4 separate regions of the Homo sapiens genome follow, and all the other regions are linked to region 1. Evidence: fine-mapped expression QTL. A gene starts in region 1. Each other region holds a variant in brackets. All regions are shown on one strand. Distances are between the middles of the regions. Region 1 holds the start of HMCN2 (hemicentin 2). Region 2 overlaps HMCN2 (hemicentin 2). Region 3 overlaps PTGES (prostaglandin E synthase). Region 4 overlaps HMCN2 (hemicentin 2).

Region 1 (8,101 bases):
TTTCTTGGGATGGTCTCAAACCATTCCTTACGGTCCATGTGACTTGGAGGCTGGTCCATAGAGGGGCTGGATTCAGCAGTAAATCATCTAGTGCTGGCTGACTGGAGCACTCGGCGCAGGCTTGCAGATTCTAACTTCTTGGCTCCTGCAGCCCATCCTCGGTAGCTTCATCTTCCCAGTTGTTTGTCAGTTCCTCCGACTTCCTGCTAGCCTTGTTTTCCAGGCCCTCGCTTAATTCTTTAATTTTTCCTAGAGGAACGAAACAAGGATTTGAAACAGTTTTTAATTCTCAGGCCCTGGGAGGGCAGAACCCCTGCTTCATTCCCGGGGTTATTTCTCTACCTCCTTTTTTTGCCCAGGCCTTCTGGTGACATATGAGTAGACTGTGACTTTCCAGCCTTTCAAAGGTGCTTAATGTCTGAAGCTTGAGTCAGAGTCCAGCCTGGGGAATTGCTCGAGAGGACTATGAGTGTCTGAGGAAGACACCGAGCTCCTGGTTAGTTCTAGAAGAAGCTCTGCTTGCTGGGATTCCTGTACAAATCATTGCCCCATGTTTCTGGGGCAGCATGGAGTGGTGAGGTGGGTCACAGGATTTGTGGGAAGGCACACGCCAACACACAGCCCAGTCCAGACACAGGACTTCACCTCTCGGAGCCTCAGTTGTCTCATCTGTTCCATGAAGAGGAGATGTTGACGTTAGAGGTTGCTGAGGGAGCACCTGAGGAGGGGGTCAGTACGGGGTCTGGCCTTCCCCGAGGCTCTGGCCAATCCTCTCCACCCTTAGTATTTTTACTCTCTCAGAGGAACAGAGAAGATTCCCTGAGGATGAGGGCTGGGGTGGGATGAAGTGAGTGGGGGATGTTAGAATTGCAGATTTATTTATTTTTATTTTTTGAGACAGAGTCTCGCTTTGTCGCCCAGGCTGGAGTACAGTGGTGCGATCTTCGCTCACTGCAACCTCCGTCTTCCAGGTTCAAGCAATTCTCCTGCCTCAGCCTCCCAAGAAGCTGGGATTATGGATGCCTGCCACCATGCCTGGCTAATTTTTGTATTTTTAGTAGAGACGGAGTTTCACCATGTTGGCCAGGTTGGTCTCAAACTCCTGACCTCAGCTGGTCTGCCCATCTCGGCCTCCCAAAGTGCTGGGATTGCAGGCGTGAGCCACCACGCCCAGCCTAGAATCACAGATTTAATGCGGCCAAGACTAGAAGGCATTTGGGGAGCAGGGAATAGGAAAGAGTAAGGAAGGGCGATTGGTAGGGAGAAGTCATTTCTCGTGCACTGACCATGTATTCAGAGTCCGGGGTTTTGATCTGGCCCCTCTGCACATGGATCCCCAGTGCAGACGCAGTGCATGGAACTGAGTTCATGAGCCAGGGCTGAACTCGGCAGGTTGAGCAATACCCGTGCCTGTTTCCTTTAAGTGGATGGCCCATAGCATATTTTTGCTCTCTGTAGCTGTCTGCAACAAATGTGCTACGTTAGGAAACAACTCCGCTGAGACCGCTTCTTCTGGAAAGAGAGGAGAAGTGTGGGGTTCCCAGGCAGCCTGCAGTCAAGTCAAGGTGGTGGGATGGAAATTGATTGATGAGGTTCAGTTGTGTTTTCTCTGGGCTGCTGCACTGCAGCCTTGCTCACTTTTGCTATGCGACCATAGTTACATTCTTGGGAAGCCCCGAGCACTCGGAGAGGATGGTGCTTGGGGCAGCACCTCCAGTCATCCTGGATGGGCATTGGGGTCAGGCCAGACATTACTCTTTGATGGAGCTATGGCAGACAGATGACAGGTGCCTGCTCAAGCCTCTCTTCCCTGGCAGTTGGGGGAAGCAGTGCCAAGATGAGCCTAGACTTCCCCTCGCATCCTTCCTCTGTCTCTGAGGGACCGGGGTGGTGGTTCCAGAGTGGTAAGGCTGCAAGAAACATCAGAGGTTATCTTGTTAGCCTCCCTTCCGTCTCAGAATCATTTTATGAATGAAGAGACCAAGCTCCCGGGAGGGGAGGGCTTTGCTCCAGGTAGCCAGGCTGTTTCAGGACTGAAATCCATGATTCCTTTTGCCCCCGGTGACCAGCTCGGGGAAAGGTATCTTGCTTTTTTTCTTTGGGGCCAGCTTTGCCCTTACATCCTTGATGGGTAGATTTGTGGCTTCCTGGCATCTACAAGGTCTACCCTCCAAACTTCTCTGCTGTGACCTGTCTGAAATGCACATCAAATCAGATGGCTTTCTGGCCTGCATTCTTCAATAGCTCCCCAATGTCCTCAGAAAAACCCCAAGTGCATTTGCAAGATACCAGAGGTCCTTTGTGATCTAGTCTTTGTTCTCAGCTTGCCATCCCCTGGCTGGTTACATAGGGCTACCTGTCAGTGGGTGTCTCAGATCTCCCTGCCTTCGCACATGCTGTTCCTGCTCCTCAAATACCCTTCCCTGCTTGTTCCTTAAGACTTCTCAGGCTCATTCTGTGGCCTCCTCTGACCTCTTAGGCTCAGTCACTCCTTCCTCTGAGTTCCCAGAGTGCTTGGTAATTCCTCTATTAGCACTTACCTCATTGACTTAGAATTATTTGTTTACATGTCTCTTCTCCCCAGAGTGGGAAGCATGTCTTCTGCATCTTCATCCCCCCACCCCCCGCTGCTGCTCTCGCTGCCTAGCAGAGTGCCTGACCACAGCTTGGGCTCAGCAAATGTTTGTGGTGTGAATGACCGAAGGACCTTTGTCCCCAAATGTTCCCTGCACTGTGCCTGAAATGTCACCATTTATGAGTCCTGCCTGGTTCCTGGCTCCTGTTGGCTTTTGCCTTCCCACAGCTGGGACCTCTTTCTCCAACAGCTGGCCCAGCCCTGCCCAGACTCTGGGGGTTATCACAGACTTAGCCCAGGGAGATTTAAAGAGCCAGCATTAAGAAGTGCAGGTGACTCAACTTCCTGTGAACTTGGCTGCAAGTTCCACTCCCTTGCTGGGTCTGGGCACCTGGTGGCACTATATTCCACGAGACTGGTAGCTCCGTGGGAGACCATTTCCCTCGGACCCCAGCTCTGGGCTAGAACAGAGTCCCTGCGGATGTGTGCTACCTCCCGCTGTGGCCAATGCCCAGCTGCCAAGCTTCTCTGATGCCTGCTGCCCCATTCAGGTGGCACACCTTCCTTGGGCACCTAGCATGTGCCGGGCACAGGATCTCTGCCATAGAACTCACAGCCAGAGTGGGAGAGGCAGGGCCCCAGACATGACATGGGCTGTACGGTGTGGTCAGAGCCAGGACAGGGCTCAGAGAAATGTGGGTTGCAGGGCAAGGGTTCAGAAGCAGCCTCAGAGGTGGGGTCTGAGCTGAGACCGAAGAGGAAAGGAAGAGCGTGGCGGAGGGGTGGCTTCCTGGCTGACGACTCTGCAGGGACAGGGGCTCAAGAAAGCGCCCCCCATCACTCACAGACCTAGAGCCCTCAGCCATGTCTCTGGGAGCATGGTGTTCTCGGAGGAGGGATTGAGGGGATTAGCTACCTTCTCGCACATGACTCAAAACCCGGCATTTCCACAAAAGCTGCGGTTTATTTATTCAGACAACATTAGTGCCTCCCCACCATGTGCTTGGATATGGGCTGGGAACTAGGGGCTCATCCAGTGTAGACCAAGGCCTAGCCGTGCCCTCAAGGGGCTTATAGGCCAGCGGGGAGAGAGGCCTGGAAACAGGTCCCGAGAGCACAGCCTGAGATAAGCAGCCGTGCCTGAGCCCATCTGGATCTGCCCGGAGCAGGAGGCTGAACCCAGTCCCAGGCAGCACCTCACGTGGGATGCAGCATCCACACATGCAGCCCATGGGGCTGGGGAGGTGGATGGGCAGGAGGATAGCCCTCATCCTCTGGAGTCACCAGGTGACCGTGTGACAATGTCTTTTAACACAAGGGAGGCAGCAGAGCCCTGGGCCTTTGGAGTCTTTCTAGATCTGGCCTCTGATCTTGTCTTCATTGTTTGATAATTGAGTGACCTGGAGCAAATGCCTTCACCTCTCTGAGCCTCAGTTTGCTCCTCTGTAAAATGGGCTTAGGGTTAGTATTTCATTCTAGGGTTGCAGCCAGTCTTCAAGCAAATAACTGAAAATGCTTAGAACATGGTTAACAACAAGACTTCTTGTTGATTATAATAGCAGTAGTGCTTGCAATAACCGGGAAGCACAGAGCCCACCTGGCAGAAGGAAAACGAATGGCAAAGTTTGTGTGTGTGTTGGGGGGCGGGGGTGGGGGGATTTGTCGCAGCACTGGGTGGAGGGAGCTGCAGAAGCCAGGGTCCGCTTTGGCCAGGCAGGGGTGGGGGGAGTTGGGGCTGGAGGGAGACTGGGGCCGTTGCGCCTCCCCCTCCCTCTCTCCCGCCCCCGGCGCGCCATCGGCGGGAGGCGCAGGTGTCCACTGCATCCTGCGCGTCCCCATCCCTCGCTGCCCTGGCCGGGGCCCCAGCTCCTTTCTGCCTTCCGCCCCGCGTCCTCCCCTAACCTCGGATCTGGACGGGCGAACAGTGGGGCTGGGAAAGTTTGAGTCACGATTGGGGGAGGGGAGGAGGCGGGCCGTGACCCTGAACGGGGTGGGCTCTAGGACCCGCCTCGGGCGCCCAGCAGGCGGACCCGCCGCGCGCCCCTATCCCTCGCGCACTGGCCGCGGCCCGACGGAGCAAGGCACTGCCTGCAGCCGCCGTGTGCACCGGGGCGGCCGGCTAGCTCCGACCTGCGCCTCCACCGCAGCACCCGCAGCCAGAGCCGCGCTCGGCATGATGCCCGGGGCGCCGCTCCTGCGGCTGCTGACCGCGGTCTCTGCGGCAGTGGCAGTGGCAGTGGCCGGGGCGCCCGGGACGGTAATGCCCCCCACCACGGGGGACGCCACCCTGGCCTTCGTCTTCGACGTCACCGGCTCCATGTGGGACGAACTGATGCAGGTGATCGATGGCGCCTCGCGCATTCTGGAACGCAGTCTGAGCCGCCGCAGCCAGGCCATCGCCAACTACGCGCTGGTGCCCTTCCACGACCCAGGTAGCGCCCCCGCACCCCCGCCCGCCGGGCGCCCCCTTCGAGGTGCTCTCACCTGCCTGACCCCCTCAGTTGGCCCCGAACGCACCTGGACGTCGTGGGCTGCGCCGCGGCTTGGCGGGCGCGCCTTCTCGGCATATCCGCGCTGCGGGTACCCTGGCCACCTGGGCAGTCCTTGCAGCTGTCCCTTCCCTCCCACCCCCCTGGAACATTCCCTCGCTCAAGGAACCTGCTCTCCCTGCTCTCCCGCGCCGTTGTGAGACTTCAGCAAGTGACCTCACCTTCCCGCGCCTTACCGGCCCCACCTATGAAATGGTGAGGATGGCCTCCCAGACTTGCTGAGATGTTGAAATGAGGCATTCCTCTCGAGGACTTGGGACGCTACGAGCCTTTGCAGGGCTTTTCCTTTGGCCAATTCTTAGAATTCGCTCCCAGCGGAGGCTTGGAGACCGGAATGGCTCCCAGAGGCAGGCCTTGAGACGAAATGGGGTCCACCACGGACCCTGCAGTGGGGAGCGGACTCACCCTTGCTGGTCTTGTCCCCTCGCCTGTCTTCCCTGGGGAAAGGGCAGCGCCTCTCGTGTGCTGGCCCCGTGGCCTCCACCTGCTGTGTTCTCACAGCTGAGTTCCGCCCTAACTCCTTCTTCCCTGCACGCTGCACCTCTGCTTCCCCTTTAACCCCCTGCCTTGCAGCTCAGTGTTAGGGGCGCCCTTGAAAGGGTCCCTGGGCGCTCCACTGTAGAGAGTCCCAGGGACAGCGGTTGCTGAGTGAGCTGCAGGTTCCCAGCGGCGAGGAGCAGGACTGCTTTCCACACTTCTTTTTTTTTTTGAGACAAGGTCTGGCTCTGTCACCCAGGCTGGAGTGCAGTGGCGTGATCACAGCTCGCTGCAGCCTCGAACTCCTGGGCTCAGGTGACCCTCCTGCTTCAGCCTCCCAAGTAGCTGGGACTACAAGCATACGCCACCATGCCTGGCTGATTTTTAAATTTTTTATAGACATGGAGTCTCTCTGTATTGCCCAGGCTAGTCTCAAACTCCTGGCCTCAGTGATCCTCCCACTTAGGCCTCCCAAAGTGCTGAAATTACAAGCATGAGCCACTGCACCCAGCCTCCCCAGCGTTTTTTAATGGAAAATTTCAAACTTACAGTAAAATGGGGAGAAACATACATGGAACCGCCTATGCCCACCGAGAGCCTCTGAGTCATATTTTGCTTTATCACATCTCTCTATCATTCACCCCTCTGTCAAGGATAGCTTTATAAAGCAACAAACAAACAAACAAACAACCCCCCCAAATAAAACACACACACACACACACACACACACACACACACACACACACGCACAGATTCCTTGCTAAATTGTACTGCAGAGTGTTCTTGTGCTGAAGAAATAGACGGTGGCCATTGGCTGTATGAGCCAGCAAGTCCTTGCAGAGGGATTTGCATTTATTAATCACAATACCATTACAGGTTCTTAGAAAATGGACAAAACAGTGGGAAGACATAGTTCTACGTAGGCTTCAGGCTGAGTTTGTGGTCTAGGGGCTTGGAGGCCCCTCTGCTTCCAGGAGTTCTGGGCACCACAGGGTTTTGCAGCTCAAAGCTCAGAAGCCAAGGCTCTAGACAAAGATTTCTAGGAACATCAGATGGACAGCTTCTATCTTGGAGTCAGGGGGCAACCAAGCTGGGGGTTGTGAGGAGGTGGGCTGTGAAGTGTGTTCTGGCACTTAAGCTGGAACACAGGTCACCCTCCGTCTCCCCAGCTCTCTCACCCACTTTCTGAATTGTTCTGGGGCTTCCGAAGACATCACACTGAAGGAGCTTAGAGATCGTTGAATCTACCCCTTTATCTTACAGTTGGAAAAACTGAGGCTCAGGACACTGATGAGACTTTCCCAAGGCCACCTGCCAGGGTGGCGTCATTCCTGAATCATAACCCACATTTGTCTCTGAAATATGTGGCTCCAGTGGCCCAGCAGGATAGCAGCCTTTCAGAGCCAGATGTCGTGTCCTGAAGCCCAGACCAGGGTTCCTGAGACTGTCCTCGCTGCCCCATTTGTGGCCATGAGCCTCAGGAAGCCCACCTCCCACCCCTGCTCTTCCCTCTCCTCTCTGGGCACTGAGCTGGTGGGCAGTTCTCCAGCCTTCACCAGGCTCAGCCCCCTCACTCCATCCTCTATGAAACAAAAATCCAGTTCTCCATCCTGGTTCCCCAAATTAGCTTCCGAGTGACACCCCCAGGTTCAGACGTCGGGGAGACTTCAGCACCATGGAGCCCTTGATCTGTGTAGAGCCCAGGGAGGCTCACAGTGTAAAGGGGCATGGTTCATTCCACGGGGCTGGTAGCCCTCTGGGACAGGCCAGGTGGGGAGTAGAAAGTGACATGTGGTGGCTCAGGTGCCAACTCCTGGCCATGGGCCAGTAAGCAAGGAAGGGGGCTAAGGAAAGACCCCCCCCTGAGGAAGCAGCCTGTGAGTAGGGCCTGAAGAACATCAGTGAATGTTTACTGGGTTTTGGCCGTTTGCCTGGCAGATGCCAGGTGCTGGGAACACAGCAGGGAGAGAGGACTCCCTGGGGCATGTGGAGCTGGCTGGGTAAGGACCGGGGGATGGACAGGAGGGCTGATGTGGAGGGACAGGTGTGTGTGGGAGCTGGGTGTGCACGGGAGGAGTGGAGCGGGAAAGTGGGGAAGGGCAAGATTGGACACAGCCGTGAGTGCAGGGCCGATTGATGCCTTGGCGGACTTGGATTTCCTTTTCCTTCTATGGGCTGTGAACAGCCACCGAGGGCTTCTGAGCAGCAGTTTGGAACTGTGATTTAGGCCTGGCTGTGCCTTTTGAATCAGCAAATAGAATCCCCTTTGGTGGAAGAGGAACTTGAGAAACGGGTTGTAGCTGTTTGTTCCAGCTCCCAGAGCTGCACAGCGGGAGGGTTTTCTTAAAGTAAGCCCCTCTCCTAAACCCCAAGAGGCGGGTGCGGGGCAAATCGTGGCGGTTCTAGACTGTTCCTGCTTGGAGACAAACTAAGATCCGTGCTTCGGAAATTTTACAGTTTCTAAATTAAAAATTGTATGTTCCCAGAGTAGAAAAGTTAG
Region 2 (8,101 bases), 27 kb after region 1:
TTCCAGGGACTGGGCTGTGAGTCCCGATGGCCACAGCCTTCCCAGCACTTTACATTTCCCAGCTCAGAGCAGGTGCTGGGTAAATAGCTGGTGAATGGACAGGGTCCCTTGTGCTCAAGTCCCTGGTAAGAGGAAGGAGAGAGAGGCAGGGTGTCTGAGGCTGGCCATGGCCTTGAGCCAGTCCTGCTTTGTTGCCTCTGGGAGAGGGTTTTGTGTGTGTATATTTACGAGCTGCAGAGAGCTATCTCCAGGAGTGTGTTTAGATTAGCGTGCCTTAACTCCCTGTTGACAGATGGCGTTTATGGTTCTCTGCGACACTTTAGGCTTCATTTTTTGGCATGTCAGCCTACCCTCGCACCGAGTCACCCAAGCAAGGGTGGGAGGCATTTTACAGTGGAAGGATGGGTTGGTTCTTGCTCCTGGGGAGAACTATCTGGCCAATTGCATGGGAACTTGGTTCCTGCCAGGGGCAAATCAGACACAGGGCAGCTGGGCAGGTTGATGGGGGCCACTCGCCCAGGTGTGAGGCTGGGCTGTCCTAAGCCTCTTCCTTGAGGCTGGGAACCTGGGCAAATCCACTACTCCCAGCTGTGGTGCCAGCTTTCTGCTGTGACAGTCTGGCCGGGCAGCATGTGTCTGACTCAGTAGGACCACCAGTGGCCAGAATTGGCTACCTCTAAGTAGGGGCCTGGAACCCTCTCCTTCCTGGGCATGGAGCTCTGTTGTTCTTTAGCTTAATGCCTTGGACATAGCCTCTTCCAGATGTTCCCAGACATTCGGCAAGCCTGGGAAGGTGGCTGGACAGCCAGGGCTGCGGTCACCCTCCCAGGAGAGATGAACGGTGCCTTCACCCTAGCCAAGGGGCCTCCAGCTGGGAGAACTCCCCAGAAGTTGCAAAAGGCTCCAAACTATGCGTGTGTCATTAATCCTTTTACCTCTTCAGAGTGCATCCAGTGCAGCCCAAGAGGCGTCATGCATTCTCTTCCCCTTGTTTGCTGAGCTCCTGCCCCGGGCCAGGTGCAGCTCTGAGTGCTGGTGCAGAGTTGGCCATCAGTCACAGCTAGGGCTTACTGCTTTGGAGCATTTCACTTTTTTTCAATTGTGAAGTTGGCCTCACTAGTACCTGGATCACCCCTTGGGGTTGCAGGGTAATTAAAGGAAGGTGAGGATCTCTCCCTGGTAGGGGAAATTTGGAGCTTTTATAATCCTTAAACAGACAGGGGATCATGTCAGAGGCAGGCAACGTGGCCCCTTGAACCTGCCCCAAAGGTGTGCATTTTTGATTAAGACTTAGACAAGTCCAAGCACCTGCTGTGCCAGAGCAGCCTCCCCCAAGTTCCCTGGCAGACACAGCTCAACGCACTGTCACTAGCCCCGACAGTGGTGGGGGTGGGGCCAGCAGAGCTGGGCAAACTTGCCTGTCCTGCAGCTCCCCCGTGCCTGGGAAAGCCCCTCTGTCTTTTTTTCCTGGGAGAGCACTGGGCATCTTGCTCTCCTCTGCATCCCCCACCCCACAACTCACACGTTCCAGCACGGCTGGTTCTGGGGGCTGGGAGCCTTCCCATGTTCAGCACCAGCAGGCACAAAGGGTGAATTGCCTGTGTTCTGTGCATCTGCTAGGAGAAAGGTGTCCTTCTAAGACAGTAAGGGCGGGCGGAAGATGGGGGGGTGAGGGGGAGCTGCTGGGGGAGCGTCTGACCAGGTGGCTCTGATTAAATTCATCAGCAGGGGCCCAGAGATGACCTCATCCTGGACCCCTCCCAGGGGGAGGTGGTTAGGGTTTGGACTCCGGGGCAAGAGGCCTGGCTTCAGACCTCGCAGCCCTGCCACTTACCTGCAGGGTGACTGCCAGCACAGTCCTCAACCTCTCTGGGCCACACTTTCTTCTTGTGTGCAGTTGGGTTAACGAGAGCCCCTACCTGGTGAGATGGTAGCCAGGGAGAGAGGAAGCCCTTGGTAAGAGTTCACGATGGCTAAATGCCATCCCACCCCCCCGTGCTTCAATGTGGAGCCCAGGATATGTCCCTCAGTTCCATCAATGCCCCCTGAAGACTAGGAACTCTCTCTGAAAAAGATTCTCTGCTAGGGCGAGTGCCCAGGGTGCCCAGCTGGCAAGGGGCAAAACCCCCTGACTAGGGTTCTCTCTCTGTCACTTCACGGTAAGCCTCCTGGCACAGGGCCCAGGACCCACAGCCCCATCCTCTGTGTTCTCATCTGTGCCTCGGGGGCCCATTCGCCCCCTGGCTTTCCTTCCCTGCTTCCTCAGCCGCCCTGGCTGTCAAATGTTCTGGGAGGATCCTCGGGGATGATTTATCTGCTGCGAAGGGTCGAGCAGCAGCCATCTGGCTGGGGGAGCACTGCCAGATTTTTCGTTCCTTCCCCATGGGTGACAGAGATGAGCCCCAGTGCATCGCAGGCTCGCTGGTCCCCCAGCCCCTCTAACATCTGGAAGCCATTGCCTTCACCAGATGAACATTGAGCTGGCTTAATGAAGGCTCTCTGCGCTGGAGCCCTGGCACCACAGGTCTAGAAGGCAATGTCCCCAGGCCTGGCCCTACAGGGGGGTCTGGCCCTGCTGTGGGCAAGAGGGTCAGCCCCCCAACTCCCAAGTGGGGATATGCTTACAGGGCAGGCCATCCTGTGGGTCACTGGCTTTCTGCCTCGTGTCCCAGCCCTCTCTGTGGTTCAGTAGTCTGAATTGCCGAGCATCTTCCCTCCATCAGAACATCCTAGAACAAGCTTGTAACAGCAGTTACGACACAGTAGCGGGTGTCACTCCTCTGGGTAATTGTCGACTGGTGCTTTGCTCAGTGATGCTTCCCTCCTGACCCCTGACAAGGCCTGGCCCGGGGGAAGGGGACGGTGGTAACGGACCTGCTTCTTTGCTGTTGGAGGAGTTGCCTCACATGTTCGGCGGGCTTCTGTGGGCCTCTCCAGCTGGGAGTCCTCAGCCACTGCTCCCTTCTGTCCACCCCCACATGGACGAAGAACCTTGTCCTCATTCCTTGGCTAAGACAGGTGGGACCTTTTCAAGAGACACATTACTTAGAAAGCTAGGCAAGACACAACAATGAAGTAGCTCCAATTATAAAAACAGATGCATTTTCAGAATACAGAATTCTTGTCACGTGATAGTTGAAATCTAGCCATAAACTTCTAGGCACATATCTTCTAGCTCAGTCTGAAAAAAAAAAAAAAAAAACAAAAACCCAAAAACCTCATTTTCCAATTCTTTGGATTCCTTTCCCTTTTTGTAGAAGATCACATGGTAAGCAGAGCTGAAGGACTATGATTTAGAGCAAGAATGACCAATAAGTAGCATGCAAGACACCACTTTTAAAACCCATATTCATGGCAGACATTGCTAATCAATCACAGACCTTTTTCTACTTGGGGCTGAATGTGGCTTTGCCTTTCTTCTTCAGCTTTCCAGGAAGCGTTTCCCTTAGCTTGGAGTTGGCAAGCAACAGTATACCACTGTGATTGTTCAGGTGTACATTAAAGTCACAGCATACTTGCATACTTGATTTTTGTTTGTTTGTTTGTTTGTGATGGAGTTTTGCTCTTGTCACCCAAGCTGGAATGCAGTGGCATGATCTCAGCTCACTGCAAACTCTGCCTCCTGGGTTCAAGCAATTCCCCTGCCTCAGCCTCCTGAGTAGCTGGGATTACGGGCGCCTGCCACCACACCCGGCTAATTTTTGTATTTTTAGTAGAGATGGAGTTTCACTGTGTTGGCCAGGCTAGTCTCAAACTTCTGACCTAAGGTGATCCGCCTGCCTCGGCCTCCCAAAGTGCTGGGATTATAGGCATGAGCCACAGTGCCCGGTCGCATACTTGTTATTTTTAAATGACTTTACTTTAATAAAAAATTACTATGAAGAATTTCCAAGATGCAGAAAAGTAAAAAGAACACACCTACCAACTAGATTCAACAATTGTTAACATTTCTGCTCGACTTGCTTTATCTATCTCTTTATACTTTTTGCTGAATCATGACACCTTATCTATAAATAATTCAGCATGGATTTCTGAAAAAACATAGTCTTCAACATAACCCACAATATCGTCTAATAAAATTAATGAGTTTCCTAGTATCATTCTATACATAGCCCATGTTCAGATTTCCCTGTCTTCAAACTGTCTTTGATCACAGTTTTCGTCAAATCAGGATTTCATCAAGGGCTGTGCATTTCCTTTGGTTGTTATGTCTATTAAGTCCTCTTTGGTCTGAAGCCATCAGCTCTTTTTTTATGACACTAAGCTGTTCAAGAGGCATGGATTTGTACCCTGTCCCATGTTCTGGATTCTTCTGATTATTTCCTTGTGGTGGCATTCACTTTTTTTTTTTTTTTAATCCCCTATGTTTCCCTCAAACTGGATAAGTCCAAAGGTCTGATTTGATGAAGGCTGAACTTTTTGGCAGGAATATTTCCTAGTTGGTGCTGAGTGTGTCTTCTGTTGTATCACACCGGGAGGCAAATAGTGTCTGAGCATCCTACTATTACTGATGATAAGTTTGATGACTGGGTGAGGGTGGCGACAGCCAGCTCTCTGTATGGTTGGGCTGCGTTTTTGCCTTTATGACTCAAGTGGGTAATGTTCTCGCTCTGTGCGGACATCTAGTTCCCATCAACTTTTCATCTAACAGTTTTAGCATCCACTGAGGACTCTTGCCTGAAATGATATTTCATTAGGGGTTGCAAAATGATGATTTCCTAACTGCATCATTCCTCCCACATTTATGAGTGGGCATTCTTCCAAGAAGAAGAACTTTTATGCATCAAAAGTGACGGATAATTTGGTTTCTCTGAAGTACAA[T/C]TTCTGTCGAAAAGGCACGGAATCACACTTAGTTCTTTCTCTTCGATTAAGGAGTCACTTCAGTTGTGGCAAGGGAGGCTTTACTGTTTTGAATTTTGCTTTCTCTTTTTTGAGTATCATTATGTGCACATGGATTATATTATTCAATGTGTTTCAATTGAGCACAGTTATTATTCTCTTTTGGGCTCAAGTTGTCCCAAATTTAGTCAGTGGGAGCTCCTTCAAGCTGGTTCCTATGTCCTTTTGATATGTCCCTATTTGTCTTTGAGAACTTCTTTGTTTTATGGAATAACCCATCATCCCAGGCTCACCTTATAAATTGCCTGCCCCAGACCTGGAATTAGCCACTTCTCCAAGGAACCCTCGTGGGGAATGGTATTTAGAAACCAAGATCTAGGTACTGGTGGTGATCATTGTTATTGAAACTTTGGGCCATCATTGCTTCTGGATCAATTGCTCTATCTATCTATCTATCTATCTATCTATCTATCTATCTATCTACCTACCTACCTGCCTATATACCTACCTATCAATTTATCATCTATCTCTATCTGGAGAACTTATACTGATATTTCCAATTCAAATTTCACATTGTAGATCTTTTACTTAGCTCATTTGATTTGATACTTGCAGCTGTCTCTTACATTTGTTTATAAGAAAAAAATCTTGATTCTGAAAATATTGACATCTTTACTTATTTGCTTTATCCAACAAGATATATAAAATGGGTTCAAAATCACAGTGCTGATAGTTCTTCCAAATAAAATCTACTCACTAAAGTTTTTTTTTTTTTTTTTTTTTGCGGTTCTTGTTGTCCTCCTACTGAGAAAGGATAGTTGAACCGCCGGGTTTGGAATTCACTTGGAGATGTTCTTTTCTCTCTGTGGTTGTGGTACCGATTTTATGGTTGAGCTCACTGTCTTTCAGTTTTAGGGTTTGCACAGGATGGACGCTCTTTGAGATAACTTGGCCTGGAAAGAGAAGGTCCAGACTTGAAGGGGCTCCCTTCCTCTCCCTCTGTCTTGGTTTCCTTGCTGGAATCTAGGTGACTTGGCTATTGCAAAGGAGGAGGTGTGAGCTGGGGAGAGGAGGGGTATGGAGTGAGGTGCCTGAGAGGTGGACTTGAGGTCAGCCTGATAGCTCTGCCCAGGAGATGCATGTCCTACTGAACTCACACAGCCAGCAGGTGCCTCCTGAGCACTCACTCTGTGCCTGGCAGTGAGCTCAGGGCTGAGACACACATGGGCACAGCAGAGGTTCTCTGCCCCCACAGAGATCCCAGGCCAGTAAGGATGAGAAGCCCGAATCCAATAAATGTGAATGACTGGAGTGCAGATTGCTGCAAAATAGTATGTATCAGGGAACAGAGCCTTTTCAGGATTAGAGAGGGCTCTTCAAGCAGCGAGCTGAAGTATAGCAAGGAGATGGTCGATGAGGAGGCAGGGCATTCCTGCAAAGAACACGGCATGTATGGGTGGGGGCTGCCTGCGGGAGGGGTGGGGTCCAGTGTAGCAGGCAGGGGGAGGCAGTGGCACAGTGACCTTGGGTTGGCATAGGTGCCTAGGACCATAGAACCTAGGGTCTTGAAGGCCATGGTCAGGATTTGGAGAAACTAAATAAGTTTGTGCTCAGTTTGTGGTAGGGGGAGTATCTCTGAGGGAGTTTGGGAACCTCCCGAAGTCATACCCTAAATGTGTACCTAAGGGATAGGATGATATCCCAGGCAAAGGGTCCTTACCTTTTATCTGATTCTCAGTGGCACTTGTCCAAAAGATGTAAGACTTTAGAATGAATAATCAATTATAGAAACCAAGGATTTAGGTCTTCTCAATATTGCAAAAATCCATCCAGCAATTCCTTACTTCTGTGGACTGGAAAGAGACCTGAAGTCTTTGCAGCAGTGCCTCTCAGTCCTGCTTAGGGAACGTGGCGCCCTGGTGGGAGCACAGTTGGAGGCCCCTGGGATAATCAGTCATGAACTACATGGGTCTGGGGGAGTTTCCAGATCTCCAGGGTTCATTGTGTGTAAGAGGCACCAAGAGGGCTTCCTGGAGGAAGTGTGGGTGCTGTGGAAGGAGGCCAGGTGGAGAAGTGTGGAAGAGTCTTCCCAGTAGAGGGACACACCCTTGCTCCTTCCCTCTGTGCTGAGTCCTCCGAATGCCTCAATTCAGGCTTCACAGCTTGGAGCCTATGGAAGCCAGGAGGGTCACAATGTGTGAATTGGGCCTGGTGTTGGACATGGAGGAGTGGGGTGGCCTTGGGCGACCTGGAAAGTTTGTATGCTGCCTAAAATCCATGGGAGGGGGAAGACATTGTGGGCACCTGCCGGCATCAGCTCCTCATACTTGCCTCCAGGTGCTGAAGTGGGTGGAGTCAGCGATCCAGGCCTCCAAGGTGCACCTGCTGTCCACAGACCACGAGGAGGAGGGGGAGCACACATGGAGACTCCCCTTTGACCCCAGCCTGAAGGAGGTCACCATCTCATTGAGTGGGCCAGGGCCTGAGATTGAAGTCCAAGATCCGCTGGGTATGGACCACCCCGGGGCTGGCCTCCTCTTTGGCCCCAAGACTGAGGTGGAAGCCCAGGATGGGACAAAGAAAGAGACCAAGGGTGACAGGGCTTCAGACATGAGGCTCCAGGAATAGGGAAATATGGGGTGGGGGGGACACGAAGTGGAGAGAGGGCGCCCATGGTGTGCGAGGAAGCAGGAGGGCCATAGCAACCGGCGATGGGAATTAAAGTAATGGCGGTCCCTGCATCGTGAGACTCTCCCCAAGTCTTTTCCGTGGTACCCCAGTGGATTCTCATGGTGGTGAGAACTTGTAGCATATTGTACAGATGGGAAGCTGGGGTTCCAGGTGCTGAGTGCTCATCAAGGTCAACAGAGTCAGGGGAAGTGTGATTCAGACATGGTCACCTGACCCCATGGTGTTCTGAGGATGTCATGAGCACCCAGGTCTAGAGGCCGGGCACACAGTCTGCCCCTGGGGATCCCTGAGGGTGGAGCGTGGAGTGAGGCAGTGGCCGAGGACCACCAAGACCCCTTGTCACTTCCGGGAAGACTGAGGCTAGTGTTTGGTGTACTGTGGATTCCTGGAGACATGCGGGGCTCCTGCCACCCCCAGCAAAGGGTTAGGGACTGAGCAGCCCTTGGGGCTTCCACAGGGAGGATCCTGCAGGAGGACGAGGGCCTCAACGTGCTTCTCAACATCCCTGACTCGGCCAAGGTCGTAGCCTTTAAGCCTGAGCATCCGGGGCTGTGGTCCATCAAGGTAGGGG
Region 3 (8,101 bases), 530 kb before region 1:
TAGCAGCCCAGACACCATCCTGGGTACTGCCCCTCTCTTCTCTCCCCCGCACCTGGGTCCTCCAGCTCCTGGGCGAGTAGCCAGGGGACTGTCCAAGCCACTGGGGAAGCAAGAGCCATGCCACTGCCCACTGTGTCCACTGCCTGGCTGTCCACACCCCCTGCCCTCCCACGGCAGAGCCAGAGGTCCTCTTAGGAAACAAAGCCAGCCATGCCAAGCCCATCCCGGCGTGACCCACAGCCCCAGACTCCCTGATAAGGGCCAGAGGCTCGTGACCCCACACTGCTGATCCCTTTAGCCCCTCCCACACTTACACCTCATTTCTATGCCCATCTGTCTCCCACCCCCACCTCCCTTCCATACCCACCACTCCCCGACACCCACCCCCAACCCAGCCCAACCCAAGCCTCCCTTCCATACGCACCACTCCCACAACACCCTCACCCACCCCACCCCACCCTGTCTTCCTTCCATACCCCAATCCTCCCCCACACACATCCCCAACACCCACCCCACCCCACCCCTCCCTTCCATGTCCCAATCTTCCCCCACAACCACCCCGACCCCTGCCCCTCCTTTCCATACCCACCCCTCCCCCACACTCATCCCCAACACCCACCCCACCCCTACCCCTCCCTTCCATATCCACCCCTTCTCCACACCCCCCACGCCTCCCTTTCATACCCCATCCCTCCCCCATCCCCACTCCCTCCCCCTACCCCCACGCCCCTCCGTACATCTCCCCTCCACACCATCAACCCTCACACTTTTCCTCCCCAACTTTCCCCACCGCCCTCCACTTCCCAAGCTCAAGGTGGAGGGGTCTGGGGAGAGCTGCTGAGCTCTTCTCTTTGCTCCTTGCTTTCTTGGCTTGGATGGTCCCCTTAAAACCGCTCTTTCACCCCCCACCGCAGGTGAGTTGCCCCCTCCCCAGGCAGCCGCTCCCCAGCAGGGGTTAAAAGGCCCCATCTGCCTCCATCAGGGCGCTGAGCCTTGGGGTCATCACGGGCGCCGTCCTGCGGAGCCCGCCCACCCCAGGCTGGAGCTGCATGCATGGGGACGGGGGGCAGGATGAGGTTGCCACCCCAGCATCGGGCACCACCCCACCCTGAGGAGGCACTCACAAGCCGACAGAACAGGGGCGGTGCCGGGCAGGGGACCTCATGGTCTCGTGGTCTCTGCGGCTCCAGTGTGGTGGGGGCCGCCTCCTTCACCCACGCCCCAGGTTCACAGTATTGCCATGGGCATCCGATGCCCCTGCTCACCTGGGTCCGGTGGGTTCCCAGCAGGTTATTTTGCCCACAGAGCCCCTCTTTCCCCAGGAAGGAAAATATAAATATAAAAGCGCACGCTGCTGTGGCCAGGCACGGTGGCTCACTCCTGTAATCCCAGCACTTTGGGAGGCTGAGGCAGGCAGATCACTTGAGGTCAGGAGTTCGAGACCAGCCTGGCCAACATGGTGAAACCCTGTCTCTACTAAAAATATAAAAATTAGCCGGGTGTGGTGGCACATGCCTGTATGTAATCCCAGCTACTCGGGAGGCGGAGACAGGAGAATGGTTTGAACCTGGGAAGGAGAGGTTGCAGTGAGCCGAGATGGCACCACTGCACTCCAGCCTGGGTGACAGAGTGAGACTCCATCTCAAACAACAACAACAACAACAACAAGAATGCACGCTGGGTTCGCCTCCTGGATGGCCCCTGCCCTGGGATCTGTCCTCCCTCTGGCCTTACACTGTCCGAGCCCAGGGACAGCAGGCAAGTCACCTCTCCCCTGTGAGGAGACACCCCCTACAAGCCTCCTTCCTGTGAACCTTGCCTCTCTCATCTAAAAACCCTCACCTTCCTCATCTAGAAAGCGGAAATCCCTCCTGCCTCGGATTGTTTTGGGGATTTTTTTTTTTTTTTTTTGAGACATTTTCCCTCTGTTGCCCGGGCTGGAGTGCAGTGGTGGGATCTCGGCTCACTGCAGCCTCAACTTCCCAGGCTCAAGCGATCCTCCTGCCTCAGCCTCCCGAGTAGCTGGGACCATAGGCAGGCACCATTACACCCGGCTAATTCTTTTTTTTTTTTTTGGTAGAAAAGGGATCTAGCTCTGTTGCCCAGGCTAGTCTCAAACCCCTGGGCTCAGATCTTCCAACTTCGGCCTCCCAAAGTGCTTGAATTACAGACATAAGTTGGAAAAAAATCCAACTAGTATGCCCAGCCCAACGCTTAGCAAGCAGTAGGTGCTCAATACTGGATCGCGCCCTTCCCGTTTCTCTCCCGAGAGCCGCCGCGGCCCAAAAACAGAGGCGTCCCCTTACCACCAGGGGGCAGTGTTTCCCCTCTCAGCTCCGAACGGGACCCGGGGCCTCACGGCGCTTTCTGGCGGGGCCTGGGGTCCCTGCGCTGCTGGAGAACCCCCGGCACGGCAGGTCCCATCCGTTAGAGGGGCTCCGGCCTCGGGGTGCTGGGAGGGGGCGTTCAGGGAAAGTGAGGCCGTGCAGCACAGGGGCTCCGCCCAGGGACTTTGGCAGCCCCGACTTTCAGACCTGGCCCCGCACTTCCGGGCGCTGGCCTCCTGGAGTCTCCGTGTCCTGGTTGACGGAGCTGATAATGGCAGCCCGCGGGCGGGGCAGCCCCGCAGGGAGGGGTGACCTGGCCGGGGCAGGATTTGGGTGCTCCTGGCTCACCTCGCCAGATGCCACCTTACCCGCCCCAACGGGAGGCAGGAGGCTGCTGCTTGCTGTGTGATTAACACCCAGCCAGGGCGCGTTGGTGTCTGCGCCAGAGATCTTGTCCCGCCAAACTGGCTGTAGACAGTCACCGGCAAGAACGCCCAGCGCGCTGGAGCATCAGGCCAGCTTGGGCAGCAGGGAACACCAGGAACGCGCAACCCAAGACGAGGTGCTGGGCCCAGCTGGCAGACACTTCCATTTAATGACTAAAAATCACACATCTCAGGTCACGGGTCTAGGAGAAAACACACACACACACACACACACACACACACACACACACACACACACACGGATTCCCCATCAAGGGGACATTTGCAGTTTCCAAACCTTGAAGATACTGAAGGGACCAGAAAGTTCCTTTGAGTGGCTGGTCACCCAAAGCTCCCGGTCCTCCACCCACTGCCCTTTGGAGGGACTCAAACCTTGGGAGGAGAAGGCTGAGCTTCCTGTGGGCCCCTCCCACCCACACCTGAGCCAGAGAGAAGACTGCAGCAAAGACATCCAAAGCCAACGGCAAGGGAAGCGTCAGCGGGGGCAGAGGAGCCAGCCCTGTCCTTGGCTCACCCAGCTTCCACCATACAGGAACCCAAGACCCCAGCCTTGCTTCCACAGAGAACTGGCAGGGGTCCCCTGGCCTGGCCATCACAGGGACTCACATGGGAGCCTTTTAAAACTCCAGATGGTGGCTGAGCACAGTGATTCATGCCTGTCATCCCAGCACTTTGGGAGGCCGAGGCCGGTGGATCACTTGAGGCCAGGAGTTCGAGACCCTCCTGGGCAACATGGTGAACCCGTCTCTACTAAAAATACAAAAATTAGCTGGGTATGGTGATACGCGCCTGTAATCCCAGCTACTCAGGAGGCTGAGGCGGGAGAATCGCTTGAACCCGGGAGGCGGAGGCTGCAGTGAGCCAGATTGTACCACTTCACTCCAGCTTGGGCAACAGAGCAAGACTCTGTCTTGGAAAAAAAAAAATACAGATGGCCAGGCTTGCCTCTAGATTGGCTGGGCCAGAATTTCTGGGGTCAGTCTGAAAAGTCTGCATTCTTAGCCCGGGATTCAGATGATCATTAGGTTTGGGAATCTTAAATAGAGTCTCCCTTCTCTCTTTTCACTGTTAGGGAGGGAGAGGGAGTGATGTTTTTGATGCTCTGTTACTTTAGCTGAAGGATTTTCTATCAATCTTCACAATCTGTCTTGAAATGGTTCCCATCAGCCACTTCGTGCAGGAATCCAAGGGGCTAAGAAACATACACACACACATACACACACACGGGCACACACACAGGCCCACTGTGCCCAGAGACCCACACGCGCAGCAGGCTGCCAGGAAACCAGGACTCAGGGCCCACCACAATCTGGAAGGAACATCAAGTCCCCAGGTATAGCCACGGCGGCTCTTGGCCCATGGTCTGGTGGCCAAGGAGGCATCAGCTGCTGGTCACAGGTGGCGGGCCGCTTCCCAGAGGATCTGCAGAGCCATGGAGGCGCAGGGGAGCTGGGCCAGGGTGTAGGTCACGGAGCGGATGGGTGCCCGCAGCTTCCCCAGGTAGGCCACGGTGTGTGCCACACGGCCCACGAGGAAGACCAGGAAGTGCATCCAGGCGACAAAAGGGTTAGGACCCAGAAAGGAGTAGACGAAGCCCAGGAAAAGGAAGGGGTAGATGGTCTCCATGTCGTTCCGGTGGGCCCTGGGGAGACAAGAGGGGTGCGGTCAGCCAGGTATTAGCTTTGGGGCCATAGGCCCTTTTGAGAGTGTCATGGAAGCTGGGGGTGCTTTGACCCACTGGGGGTCATTTCAGGCATATCACACACTCAAATCCATTCACAGCCAGGTCAAGGAGATGGATACCCCAGAGTCCAGAAGAAGGCAGCTCCAAGCTTATGCTTGCAAGCAGCTGAGGCAGCGAGGCCACGTCATGGGCTGGGAGTCAGAGGGCTACTGGTCCAGGATGCTCTTACCATACCTCTATGGCTTGCCGGGACCCCACTCCTGCCATACTCTCCCCCACCTTCCTCTCTAGCCCTTGGATACCAGGCAGGAAAAGTGGGACTCAGAGGTGCTGAGTGCTTTACAGAGCCAACGAGTGGAGGAGCTGGGATTGGAACCGAGTTCTGACTGGAGTTTGTGCTCTTTACCTCCAGGGCAGGGCTTCTCTGAGTCAGGCCTGAGGTCATCCTCCTTCTGAATGCAGCTTCCTGGGCCCCTCCCGAGTAGAAGGGGCTAGAGCCCAAGAGCAGGCCTTTGAAATGAATGCCGGGCTCTGTCTCCTTTTCCCCCTAAATCTAACTACCACCTGTCCTTTCAGGGACAATCATAACAAGATCCGCTCCCACTCACTGGAGCCAACC[G/A]ATGGCCAGCCCCCGGTGAAGCTCTTCATTTTACACATCCTTTCCTGCCTCTTTTTCTGTTGAAAGGAATCAAGCATGTGCATATGTGTGGTGGGGGCGGAGGGGCTCTGTATAACCCCACCATAAATAAATGACCAAGAAAGAAAACTCAGAAAACTCACCTACTTCTGCTGGTTCACATTTTCCAGACTCCTACTAATGGCCGGCTTCCTTTATGAAGGGTGGGGAGGTTGAGTCCCATAAATTAGAGACTGAATGAGCAACTAAACCCATAGATTGCCACATTGGAAGCTCAAATAAACAGGAATTCAGTGCCCAGGGCATGACCTCCCCCAAGGACAGGCCACGCGTGTGAGGTGCAGGAACAGAAGCATGTTCTCCGGGCCTTCCTGCTGACATACATTCCACCAATAACACCGTCTCCTCGGGCCAGGCCCAGACTAGCAGCACTGAGTGGGGACCCGCTGCAGGGTCCTCCTCTTCCCTCTCACTGGCAAGACGATTCTTGGGCCAGTGCGATGGTGTGTGGGCCTGACCAAAAGGAAAGAGGGGGCCTGGAGTGCTTGGCCACCCCACACTGTAGGAAGCTCTGCAGCGTGCCTGGGGTGGGGGTGGGCAGGGAAGGAGACATATGTGCAGAAGCCTGAATGATGAGAAGCTGGCCCTGCAGGGGAAAAGCATTCCAGGAAGGAAGACCAGTGTGTGCAAAGGTCCTGAGGTCACAATAAGCACAGCATGTTCAATGTGCAGAAAGGTGAGCCCATGGCTACAGTGCGGTGCACAAGAGGGAGTGAGGCAGATAAGAGAGGGAGAGGAATTCAATCTGAGTGTACAAAACTCCTGTAAACCCAGCAGGGCCTAGATCTTTCTCAGGCCAAACTCAGGACACAGCACCTGGCATCTGGGTCCGCATATCCCGAGACTGACATGAACCCCTCTTCTCCTTTTCCCCCAGATCCTGACCTTGCAACCCAGACACAAGGAAAGCAAGTCTGTGGCAGGGCAGTTCTCACCCAGCGGTGGGGAACACTGTGGCCTGCCTGTGTCTGTCAGAGGCTGGCTCTGGATAGATCCTGGGGTACTGCCCTCAGGGAAGACATAAGAGGGAGATTACAGACTCACGCCTGTAATCCCAGCACTTTGGGAGGCCAAGGCGGGCGGATTACCTGAGGTCAGGAGTTCGAGACCAGCCTGGCCAACATGGTGAAACCCTGTCTCTACTAAAAATACAAAATTAGCCAGCCATGGTGGTGCATGCCTGTAATCCCAGCTACTCGGGAGGCTGAGGCAGGAGAATCACCTGAACCGGGCAGGTGGAGATTGCAGTGAGCTGAGATCATGCCATTGTACTCCAGCCTGGGCAAAAAGAGGGAAACTCCCTCTCAAAAAAATAAATAAATAAAATAAAAGAGAGGGAGAAACCAAAGACTGGGGCCACCTCCCTGTCAAGTAAGTCCCTTACCAGGACTGATGAGGAAAGGCAATAGGTGTTCCTCCAAAATCACTCCATCCTTGGCCGGGTGCAGTGGCTCATGCCTGTAATCCCAGCATTTTGGGAGGCTGAGGCTGGTGGATCACTTGAGGACAGGAGTTTGAGACCTACCTGGCCAACATGGCAAAATCCCATCTCTACTAAAAGTACAAAAAAAAAAAATTAGCTGTACATGGTGGTGTGTGCTTGTAGTTCCCAGCTACTCAGGAGGCTGAGGCAGGGAATCACTTAAACCTGGGAGGTGGAGGTTGCAGTGAGCCAAGATCGTGTCACTTCACTCCAGCCTGGGCGACAGAGTGAGTGAGACTCTGTCTCAAAAAAAAAAAAAAAAAAAAAACATAAAACAAAACAAAAATCACTCCGTCCTCTGGCAATTGAGCTGTGGGTACCCACATCCCCCTACAGGCTGATTAGAGGGACACCCTTGGAAAACCCATTTTTGATTATGTCCCAAAATGAGGTCTGCCTGTCACAAGTGATTCACAAGGGAGTGCCACCTGGATGAGGAGTTTTGTAATGTTTATTTGAAAGTTTCAGGAAAAGCACAACCAGCATATGCAACTCGTTCACTCAGCTATTCCTTAAAGTATGTGTTGATATTTTAAGAGTAAGTCCTTTGGGAGGCTGAGGCGGGCGGATCACGAGGTCAGGAGATCGAGACCATCCTGGCTGATATGGTGAAACCCCATCTCTACTAAAAATACAAAAATCAGTCAGGCGTGGTGGCAGGCGCCTGTAGTCCCAGCTACTCGGGAGGCTGAGGCAGGGGAATCTCTTGAACCCGGGAGACAGAGGTTGCAGTGAGCCAACATCGCGCCACTGCACTCCAGCCTGGGCAACAGAGTGAGACTCCGTCTCAAAAAAAAAAAAAGAGTAAGTCAATGTTTGGAAAGCTGTTAAGAGAATCATAGTACAGATAGTTCACAAACATAGCCAAACCCTGAAGAGTGGGTGAAGGAAAGAAGTTGGGGAACACAGGGTGGGAAGGAGGAACAAGACGGGAAGTTCATGGCAGACGTGGATCCTGCTCTGCCTGGCATGTCTGCAGGCTGGGGAGGAGCAGGCCTTGCAGAAAAAGCGGGGACTGAGCCCCACCTTCTATTTCCAGCCATTGGGCAGCAATTCAGCGGTCACCAGCGTGGGAGGAGAGGTGGTCAGGAGCTCTGACTGTCAGCCCCTGGGGCTGGCCCAGCCCTCCCTCACTCGTCTGGTCTGTCTCAAACCGCAGAGGGGCCCCTCCGAGGCCGCAGTGGCCAGGGACAGGGAGCAATGGAGACACCAAGGAATGATGGAAGAAAGCTCACCTCCCTCCTCCCACCTCCAGGCTCCAAACCGAGAGACATGGAGGCAGGCACGTACCACAGACGTGCTCGGGTGAAATGCATCATTCAAATAATAACCATTTTTTTAAGGTAAAAGCCACCCAAAGCAAATTCCTACTAGACTGGACTTGTATTGCCTCCTGCAGCATCAGGCCTGCCTTCACCCTCCACAGACTTTTCCACACCAGCTGCATTTTCCTGCATAGGTGAC
Region 4 (8,101 bases), 58 kb after region 1:
TCACCCTCAGCTCCTATGTCAGCGGGTCACAATCAGACTGAGAAACACTCCTTAGAGCCCCTTGGAGGGGCTTCCTGGGAGGTGTCACAGCCAGGAGTGGGCATGCTGCTCCCTCCCCTGCACCTCTGGGGTAAAGCCAGGCCCCTGAGACCCCACGCACCATCCCACGAGTCACTCCCTCTGCCTCATCCCAAGAGCTCTCCAGGGGTGGATGCCACTCAGCACAGGTTGACCCTGGAGCCCTGGACAGGAGTCGAGCCCTAGGTTCACAAGGGCAATAGTACAGGAGGAGGAGAGGGAGGCAGTTCCTTGGGGACCTGCCGCTGAGCAGGTCCAGCCTCCGGGCATGGTTGACTGGTCACCTCCCTGCAGATGCGCCCCAGCTGACGGAGCTGCCCCGGGATGTCACTGTGGAACTGGGGAGGAGTGCCCTCTTGGCATGCCGGGCAACAGGCCGCCCGCCCCCGACGGTCACCTGGCGCCGCGGAGATGGCCAGCCTCTGGGACTCAGGCTGGGGGCCGGGCGAGGCAGTAGGTCTCGGCAGCCGGATTCGGGAGTGCTGTTCTTTGAAAGTAAGAGATTGGGGCTGGTGGGGGGTGGGCAGGGAGACAGGATGGCCTCTGACACCCTAAACCCCAGGCCAGGTGGCCGAGAGCAGGACCCTGACCGCCAGCACTGACCATAGAGCAGAGGCTGATACGCGGTCACACTTTGGCTGGGTGGCTCTGGCCAAGTCATTCCACTACTCTGACCCTGTTCATAATCACGACCATGAAATCTACTACCCACCTGGCTGATTAGCAGCCACTTTATGGGGCTGTTGTGTGGATAATCTGTACAAAGTGCTTAGCACAGTTCTTGCCACATGCTGTCACACACATATAAGCTACTATGATTACCATAATTACTACTGCGCCTACCCTACCACCCACTCTTTACTACACGCCAGGCCCAAGGGCGGGCACTTTGTCAACCCTGCCCCATCACACTACTACAAGGTACAGGCCAATTACCCCCATTCCACAGATGAGCAAACTGAGGCTTTCTCACCTTCCAAGGTCCAGCGGTGTCCCTCACCCCTTCCCTCTCTACCATCCCAGCCTTCCCTCCTGAACCTCTGTAAGGCCAGGCCATGCCAAGGGGCTGTCTCTGCACCTGGGGAGCTGGAGCCCATGGGGGCTGCAGCTGTGGTGTGCCTTGGCAGTCACACCTGCCTCTCTCGTGCCCCTCAGGTGTGGCCCCAGAAGACCAGGCCCCATATGTCTGTGAAGCTCGAAACGTCTTTGGGAAGGTCCAGGCTGAGGCCCGGCTCATCGTCACTGGTCACGGTTCGCTGGTGGATCTGAGGGCCGTGGGAGGTGGGAGGTGGGAGGCAGGTGCTCCCCGGGGGCACAGCAAGGCCGTGGGCGCCTCCAGGGAGCCTCTCCTGGCCCATCTGTTGGAACAAACGAATCCACAGCCAAATTCTCCAAGAGCAGCACCTGTGCCCCTGCGTCCTGGACAATGTCCTGGGGGTCCTGTGACCCTTTAGGATCCCCAATTCTGATGCATCTCTCAGTTCCCTGGGGAGGGAGAGGGGAGCAGGAGCCTCTGTCCCCCAGACAACCACCCAGGGCACCTATTGTGGCTGACACCGGCTCCTCTCCCCACAGCCCCGCCACAGATCGCCAGCAGCGCCCCCACCGTCCGGGTCCTGGAGGGGCAGCCCGTGTCCCTGCCCTGCATCGTCCTAGCTGGGCGGCCCCTCCCGGAAAGGCACTGGCTCAAGGACGGCCGGCCCGTGAGTGTCGGGCTCCTCTGGGTGCGGTGGGCGGTGGCACCTGGGGAAGAAGGAGGCTGTCACAGCCACGTCTCTATCTCTGCTTGGCTGTTTCCCCGCCTGGGAGTGTCCTCTTCCTTCCACCCTCTTTTTGGCCCCATTTCAGAACCTTCTCTGATAATGCACTGATGGTGTTTGTTGCCCTCTAAAGTCCCGCCGGCTGTCAGATGGGTCATGGCTGCTGGACCCCTGGGAGCTCTGCAGGGCAATCGTGTGCCTCAGGAGTGCTGTGAGCCAGGGAGCAGGGATTTAGTGGAGGCCCAGTCTCAATGCAGTGGTCTCCCCGGTTCTTATGATTCCAGAGCAGGGATGTGAGCTGTGCGGTTTCCTATCTGCCCCAGACACCGGCGCGCGCTGAACGCACAGTGGTTGCCTTATCAACCAGTTCACGTCCATTTGATTTTCTTGGTGTTCTTCTGTTTGCCCTCTCCTATTGACTCTTTCATTACCTCTTCCCTTTCCTCAATTCTTCTGCCTGGTCTCAGACACACCAGGTCCCTGTGTCCTGCAGGCTGCAAAGAGGTGCCTTCCCAACTCTGCATTCCCAGGAGAGACTCTCGTGGGCCCAGCTTGGGTCAGGCTCACCCTGGTCCAGTTGGCCGAGGGAGAGGTGGGGTCAGGGTATGTAGGGGTCAGGCCCACCCAGCCCTGCAGGGTCTCTGGAGGGCTTGACTGGGCACTCGGGAAGGACTCACAGAGCTCCTCAGCCTTCTCTGAGCCCCCGGGCTCTCAGTCCTGGCTGCTCCCTACTGGCCTGATGAGCAGCATAGTTTCCCGAGGGTTCTTTCTCAGCTGCCTCTGAGTGAGGCCCAAGGCTAAGCTGGTGCTTCCTCACCCCCACCAGCTCCCACCTGGCAGCCGGCATTCCATCCGAGCAGACGGCAGCCTCCACCTTGACCGAGCATTGCAGGAGCACGCGGGGAGGTACAGCTGTGTGGCCACCAACACGGCCGGCTCTCAGCACCGGGACGTGGAGCTGGTGGTCCAGGGTGAGTCCTGGGGTCTCGGAGGTGGTGGTCGTGGGGCAGGGAACATGATGGGGTGGGGGAATGTGCAGAGGTAACTTGATCTTGAATGCATTTGCTTTAAAAAATCGTGCAAATCATATATATTCTCTGTGGGAAAATTAGGGATTTGACAAGTTAAAAAAATACTCTCATAATACCAGTAGCTAAGAATAACCAGATTTTGCATTTTGGCATGTATCTTTTCATACTCTATACACACACACTCTCTATATGTATATCACACACACCTATGTGTAGTATATATATACACTATGTATACATAGAATATATATTCTTTATACATTTTACATACAGATTCTTTGTATGTTCTTATAAATTACATAAAAATTATCTATCATCTATCTATCTAATCTATCTATCTATCTATCTATCCATCTATCTATCTATCTATCCATCTGTCTATCTATCTATCTATCCATCTAATCTATCTACCTGTTTACAAACCTATTTAAAAACCAAATAGGATCACATGCTGTCATTGTCTTGGCACCTAAGTGTTTCCATGACAAGGTGTTATGGCTGTTCTGTTTTCTGTCAATTAAGATTCAGAGGCATCAGTTTAATAAGGGGATGATCATGTCCCCTGATTATCTAATTACCTGATTATCTGTACTCCCCCCGCCCAACCGCATCCCCCACACCCCGGGTATGAACAGCCTCGTACCTACACATTGTAGGTGACCACGTACCTACGTGACCAATTCTTTCCTTAGGATAAACCCATTAATGTGGATTAAGTTTTGCATCACAGAGATTGTACGTTTTTGGAATTTTTAGTGTCTTGCCCAACTGCTCTCCTGCCCACAGCACTGGGTTCTTTTATTCACCCAACTGGAACCACTGTGCTTTTTAATGTAAGATGAGACATTTCAAATTAAATTTGGTTGTATTTTGTGATTTACCAAGTATGTTAATATCGTCTTTTTTCTTGTTTGTTTCATAAAGCCCCCAAGGGATTAGTGGGAAGAACGCGCGTTCCCCATTTTATAGGGGAGTGCAAAGTTCAGAAGGGCTGGGTTGAGCGCTCAGGTGCAATTCTAGGTGCCATCCCCTCATAATTCCAGATCCAAATCGCCATCCAGGGTGGAGTGTGTACCACATGCCAGGCATCTGCTAGTTTCTATATATGATTCCACTCAGTTTCACCCCCTAACTTCCCACTGTGCCCTCACAGCCGCTTCTGTGGGGCTAACATGAACAGGCTCAGTCTCTCTTGGCTCAGTTCATTTCTATTCAGCAAATATTTATGGGCCTCTGCTGGCTGTGGCGACCTGGGAGTCCAGAAGTCCATTTTCCTCCCTAAAGGAGCTCCAAGTGCTAGCGTGAGAGCCCCTGGCTTCTGGATTCCTCTCCTGGCTTCTCCATGCCTAGTTACCCCTCTCTCGCTCCCCTTAGAGACCCCGTGTTCAAGCCTGCGAATCTGAGTGGTGCCCAGGGTGGGTGTGACACCTGTTTTTAAGCTCACTGTGTTCTGCAAACACTGCTCATCTATCCATTCCAGAAGGGACGACCAGGGAACTGGGGTTAAATTAGCTTTTGTGCTGATCAGGGAATATGGGTACCAAAAGATTAAGTGGCTTATCCAGAGCCCCAGAGCAATGAATCAGCGCAGCTGGTTCCCAAGCACATGCTGCCTTCTGTATGGGGAAGACAAAAAAACTGACGATGGCAGGCAGTGGTGGCTCAGGGATTGTTCCAGTTTTATTCTCCCATTGAAAGCTTTTTTTTTTTTTATTTTACTTATTTATTTCTGAGACGCAGTCACTCTGTTGCCCAGGCTGGAGTGCAGTGGCATGATCTTGGCTCACTGCCACCTCCACTTCCCGGGTTCAAG[C/T]GATTCTCCTGCCTCAGCCTCCTGAGTAGCTGGGATTACAGGCATGTGCCACCATGCCCGGCTAATTTTTGTATTTTTAGTAGAGACGAGTTTCACCATGTTGGCCAGGCTGGTCTCAAACTCCTGACCTCAGGTGATCCACCTGCCTCAGCCTCCCCAAGTGCTGGGATTACAGGCATGAGCCACCGTGCCTGGCCTGAAAGCTTTTAAAATTGTCAAATATACATAACATAACGTGTATCATTTGACGATGTTTAGGTGTGCAGTGGTGTTGGTACATTCACATTTCACACTATCACCGCTATCCATCTCCAGGACTTTCTCATCATCCTAAACTGAAACTCTGTCCTCATTAAACATTAGCTCCCCATTCCCGTCTCCCCTCAGCCCCCTGGGAGCCACCCTTCTGCCTCCTATCTCTATGAACTTGCGTATCTAGGGACTTCATAGAAGTGGAATCTTACAGTATTTGTCCTCCTATGTCTGTGATTTCACTTAGCATGTTTTTAAGGTTCATCCATGGTGTAGCATGTGTCAGAATTTTATTCCTTTTAAAAAAACAGACTGGACTTTTAAGAGCAGTTTAAGTTTATAGAAAAACTCAGCGGAAGGTACAGAGATTTCCCACATAACCCTGGCTCCCGCCACGCGCAGCCTTCTTCACTGTCAACATCCCCCACCAGGGCGGCCCGTTGTTAGCACTGAAGACACGTCATCATCACTCCAAATCCCATAGTTTACATTGGGGTTCCCTCTTGGTGGTGTTTATTTGTTTTATTTTTTATTTTTATTTTAGATGGGTTCCCTCTTAGTGGTTTTTTAATTTTTTATTTTTTTTGAGATGGAGTCTCACTCTATGGCCCAGGCTGGAGTGCAGTGGCGCAATCCCAGCTCACTGCAACCTCCACCTCCCGGGTTCAAGTAATTCTCCTGCCTCAGCCTCCTGGGTAGCTGGGACTGCAGGCGCCCGCCACTGTACCGGTCTAATTTTTGTATTTTTAGTAGAGACAGGGTTTCACCCTGTTGGCCAAGGTGGTCTCGAACTCCTGATCTCTGGTGATCCGCCCACCTTGGCCTCCAAAGTGCTGGGATTACAGGTGTGAGCCACTGCACCCAGCCTTGGTGTTGTTTATTTTGTGGGTTTGGACAAATGCAGTGACCCATCACTGCAATATCACCTGGAGTAGCTTCACTGCCCTAAAAATCCTCTGGGCTCTGCCTCTTCATCGCTTCCTCCCCCAACCTGGCAACCACTGATCTAGTTTTGTCTTTTCTTCTTCTTCTTCTTCTTCTTTTTTTTTTTTTTTGTAGACAAGAGTCTCACTATGTCTCCCAGGCTGAAGTACAGTTGTGCAATCTCTGCTCACTGCAACCTCCGCCTTCCAGTTCAAGCAATTCTCCTGCCTCAGCCTCCCGAGTAGCTGGGATTACAAGGCATGCACCACCATGCACAGCTAATTTTTGTATTTTTAGTAGAGGCGGAGTTTCACCAAGTTGGCCAGGCTGGTCTCGAACTCCTGACCTCAAGTGATTCTCCCGCCTCAGCCTCCCAAAGTGCTGGGATTACAGGCATGAGCCACCATGTCCGACTGCTTTGCCTTTTCCAGAATGTCATATAGCTGGAATTAATTGCCTTCCTTTTTAAGGATGAATACTCTTCTGTTGTGTGCACACACCGCATGCTGTGTGCCCATGCATCGCTGATGGACATTTGGGCTGTTTCTACCTTTTGGCCACTGTGAATGATGCTGCAATGAGCCTTGGCTTTGACATTGGTTTATTTATAACAGTGCCACCTAGAATCCATCCCACTGCCACCCACCATATCACCAATGAAGGGGTTGCGGCCTCTCTTCCCTGCGTCGCTTCAGGAGTTCCCGCCCCCACCATCACGTGGACCAAGGTAAGCAGTGCCTGTTACCGAGAGGATAACTGGAGAGGTAGGCCCAGTGTGTCATGGGGCGGAGGTGTGGGCTTCGCCGATGTCACCTGTGCCTCTGCCCTAGGAAACCAATGCCCTGACCTCCAGAGGTCCCCACTACAATGTGAGTAAGGAGGGCACCCTGCTCATCGCCCAGCCGTCTGCCCAGGACGCAGGGGCCTACGTCTGCACGGCCACCAACACCGTGGGCTTTTCTAGCCAGGAGATGCGACTTTCTGTCAACAGTGAGTGATGCCAACCCTGTCCTGGGAGAGGGGGCTCAGTGGCTGTGGAGACAGAGAGTCCCACGTCAGCCCTGTGGAGCCTGAGGCAGGGAAGCTGTTGCATCAGCAAGTCCTGCAAAGACACGTGGCTCTGCACAGGACCCGCGTCCCCAGCAGCCCTCTCCCCGCCTCTCTCTGCCCCAGACCCTCTGGTCTCCTTTCTGTTTCTGGAATGGTCCAACCTGCCTCAGGGCTTGTGCACATGTAGTTCCTTCTGCTTGGAATGCTGTTCCCCCACCTCTGGGCCCAGCTGACTGCTCCCATCTGTCAGATCTCAGCTCTCCCTGTTCCCCCAGGCTGGTCAAGTCACCTTGCTGTAAACTGTGGAATATCCCCTTCCTGGCACCCGTCACAGCTATGATTCAATAATTAATCACACAGTGAGCTTTTTGGTACCACTATTGCCAAAGGACCCTAAAGGCTGTGAAGATGGGGCGGGACCTGTCTCCTTCGCTGCCGTCCGCAGCATTCCCCATAGGGCTGGCGCTCAGTAAATACGTCTGGGAGGAGTGAGCAAATGTATAAGCCAGGCTTTTTCTCTCATAGACCCTTACAGTCAATATTTTTATATTGTAAAAAAAAAAAAATTCCTAATGGGGGAGCATTTCCTTTGAACTACAAATGTACGGGGAACACGGGAGGGCTAGATGGGTTTTGATGTCCCCAACTGGCTAGCTTCTTTCATTGTTGCTGCTCAGACAGGTAGCGAGTGCCTTCCTTGTATGAACTCCAAGGTAGAAAGGCGGAGGCGGGGAGCGGGGAGGAAGGAAGGGTACCATGCTGTTTCTGCCGACGAAGGGTCTTCAGCTTAAGGTGAGAGAGACGTGACATGCACAGATTGCCATCAATCCCTCACCAGGCTTCGAGAGGTCCAGAGGGAGGGTCTGTGCATTCTTTGGTGGCTGATATCATGGGAATAAGTGAATGAGCAAGGGGAGAAGGTAGAGAGAGAGGAGGAGTTCAGAGCCTTTCAGAATGTCCCTGGGGAAGGGACAGCAGGATGAAGAGAAGCCAGAGAAGGCACAGACCGTAGGGCAGGAGGGACCGGGTCAGGGTCCTCAGAGCAAGGTGGTGGTGGGGAGGTGGGTAGGGGAGGACTGAGTGAAAACCCTGGGACCTGAGTCCCACCTCCAATCTGGACTCCCCCCCTTCTGACAGCCATATCCACCTTCTGGACCTCCTGAAGGTCGAGGGTGCAGTACCGGCTCTGCCTC

Evidence for each region. PIP is the estimated chance that this variant, and not a neighbour inherited with it, causes the effect.
Region 2: its variant is fine-mapped to the expression of HMCN2 in lung (TOPMed, PIP above 0.99).
Region 3: its variant is fine-mapped to the expression of HMCN2 in prefrontal cortex (BrainSeq, PIP 0.95).
Region 4: its variant is fine-mapped to the expression of HMCN2 in esophagus muscle (GTEx, PIP above 0.99).

Annotation. Positions count from the first base shown.
Region 1 is chr9:130,261,131-130,269,231 of GRCh38, forward strand. HMCN2 (hemicentin 2) reads left to right here and starts at 4,630. Exons shown (of 98, transcript NM_001291815.2): 1 at 4,630-5,007. The coding sequence starts at 4,749. It overlaps LOC124902285 (a long non-coding RNA gene), which reads right to left and starts at 5,759. Exons shown (of 2, transcript XR_007061817.1): 1 at 5,286-5,759; 2 at 1-1,910. RefSeq lists an enhancer at 7,518-8,101.
Region 2 is chr9:130,287,679-130,295,779 of GRCh38, forward strand. It overlaps HMCN2 (hemicentin 2), which reads left to right. Exons shown (of 98, transcript NM_001291815.2): 5 at 7,177-7,348; 6 at 7,988-8,094. Among named protein-coding and RNA genes, the nearest start is that of HMCN2, 26 kb to the left of the region's middle. RefSeq lists an enhancer at 1,763-2,331. The variant T/C (reference allele first, on the strand shown) is at 4,822.
Region 3 is chr9:129,735,446-129,743,546 of GRCh38, forward strand. PTGES (prostaglandin E synthase) reads right to left here. Exons shown (of 3, transcript NM_004878.5): 3 at 2,904-4,415. The coding sequence ends at 4,166. Among named protein-coding and RNA genes, the nearest start is that of PTGES, 14 kb to the right of the region's middle. RefSeq lists enhancers at 1,997-2,246, 7,252-7,752. The variant G/A (reference allele first, on the strand shown) is at 5,077.
Region 4 is chr9:130,319,123-130,327,223 of GRCh38, forward strand. HMCN2 (hemicentin 2) reads left to right here. Exons shown (of 98, transcript NM_001291815.2): 16 at 373-573; 17 at 1,234-1,329; 18 at 1,654-1,781; 19 at 2,665-2,809; 20 at 6,473-6,585; 21 at 6,689-6,848. Among named protein-coding and RNA genes, the nearest start is that of HMCN2, 57 kb to the left of the region's middle. The variant C/T (reference allele first, on the strand shown) is at 4,683.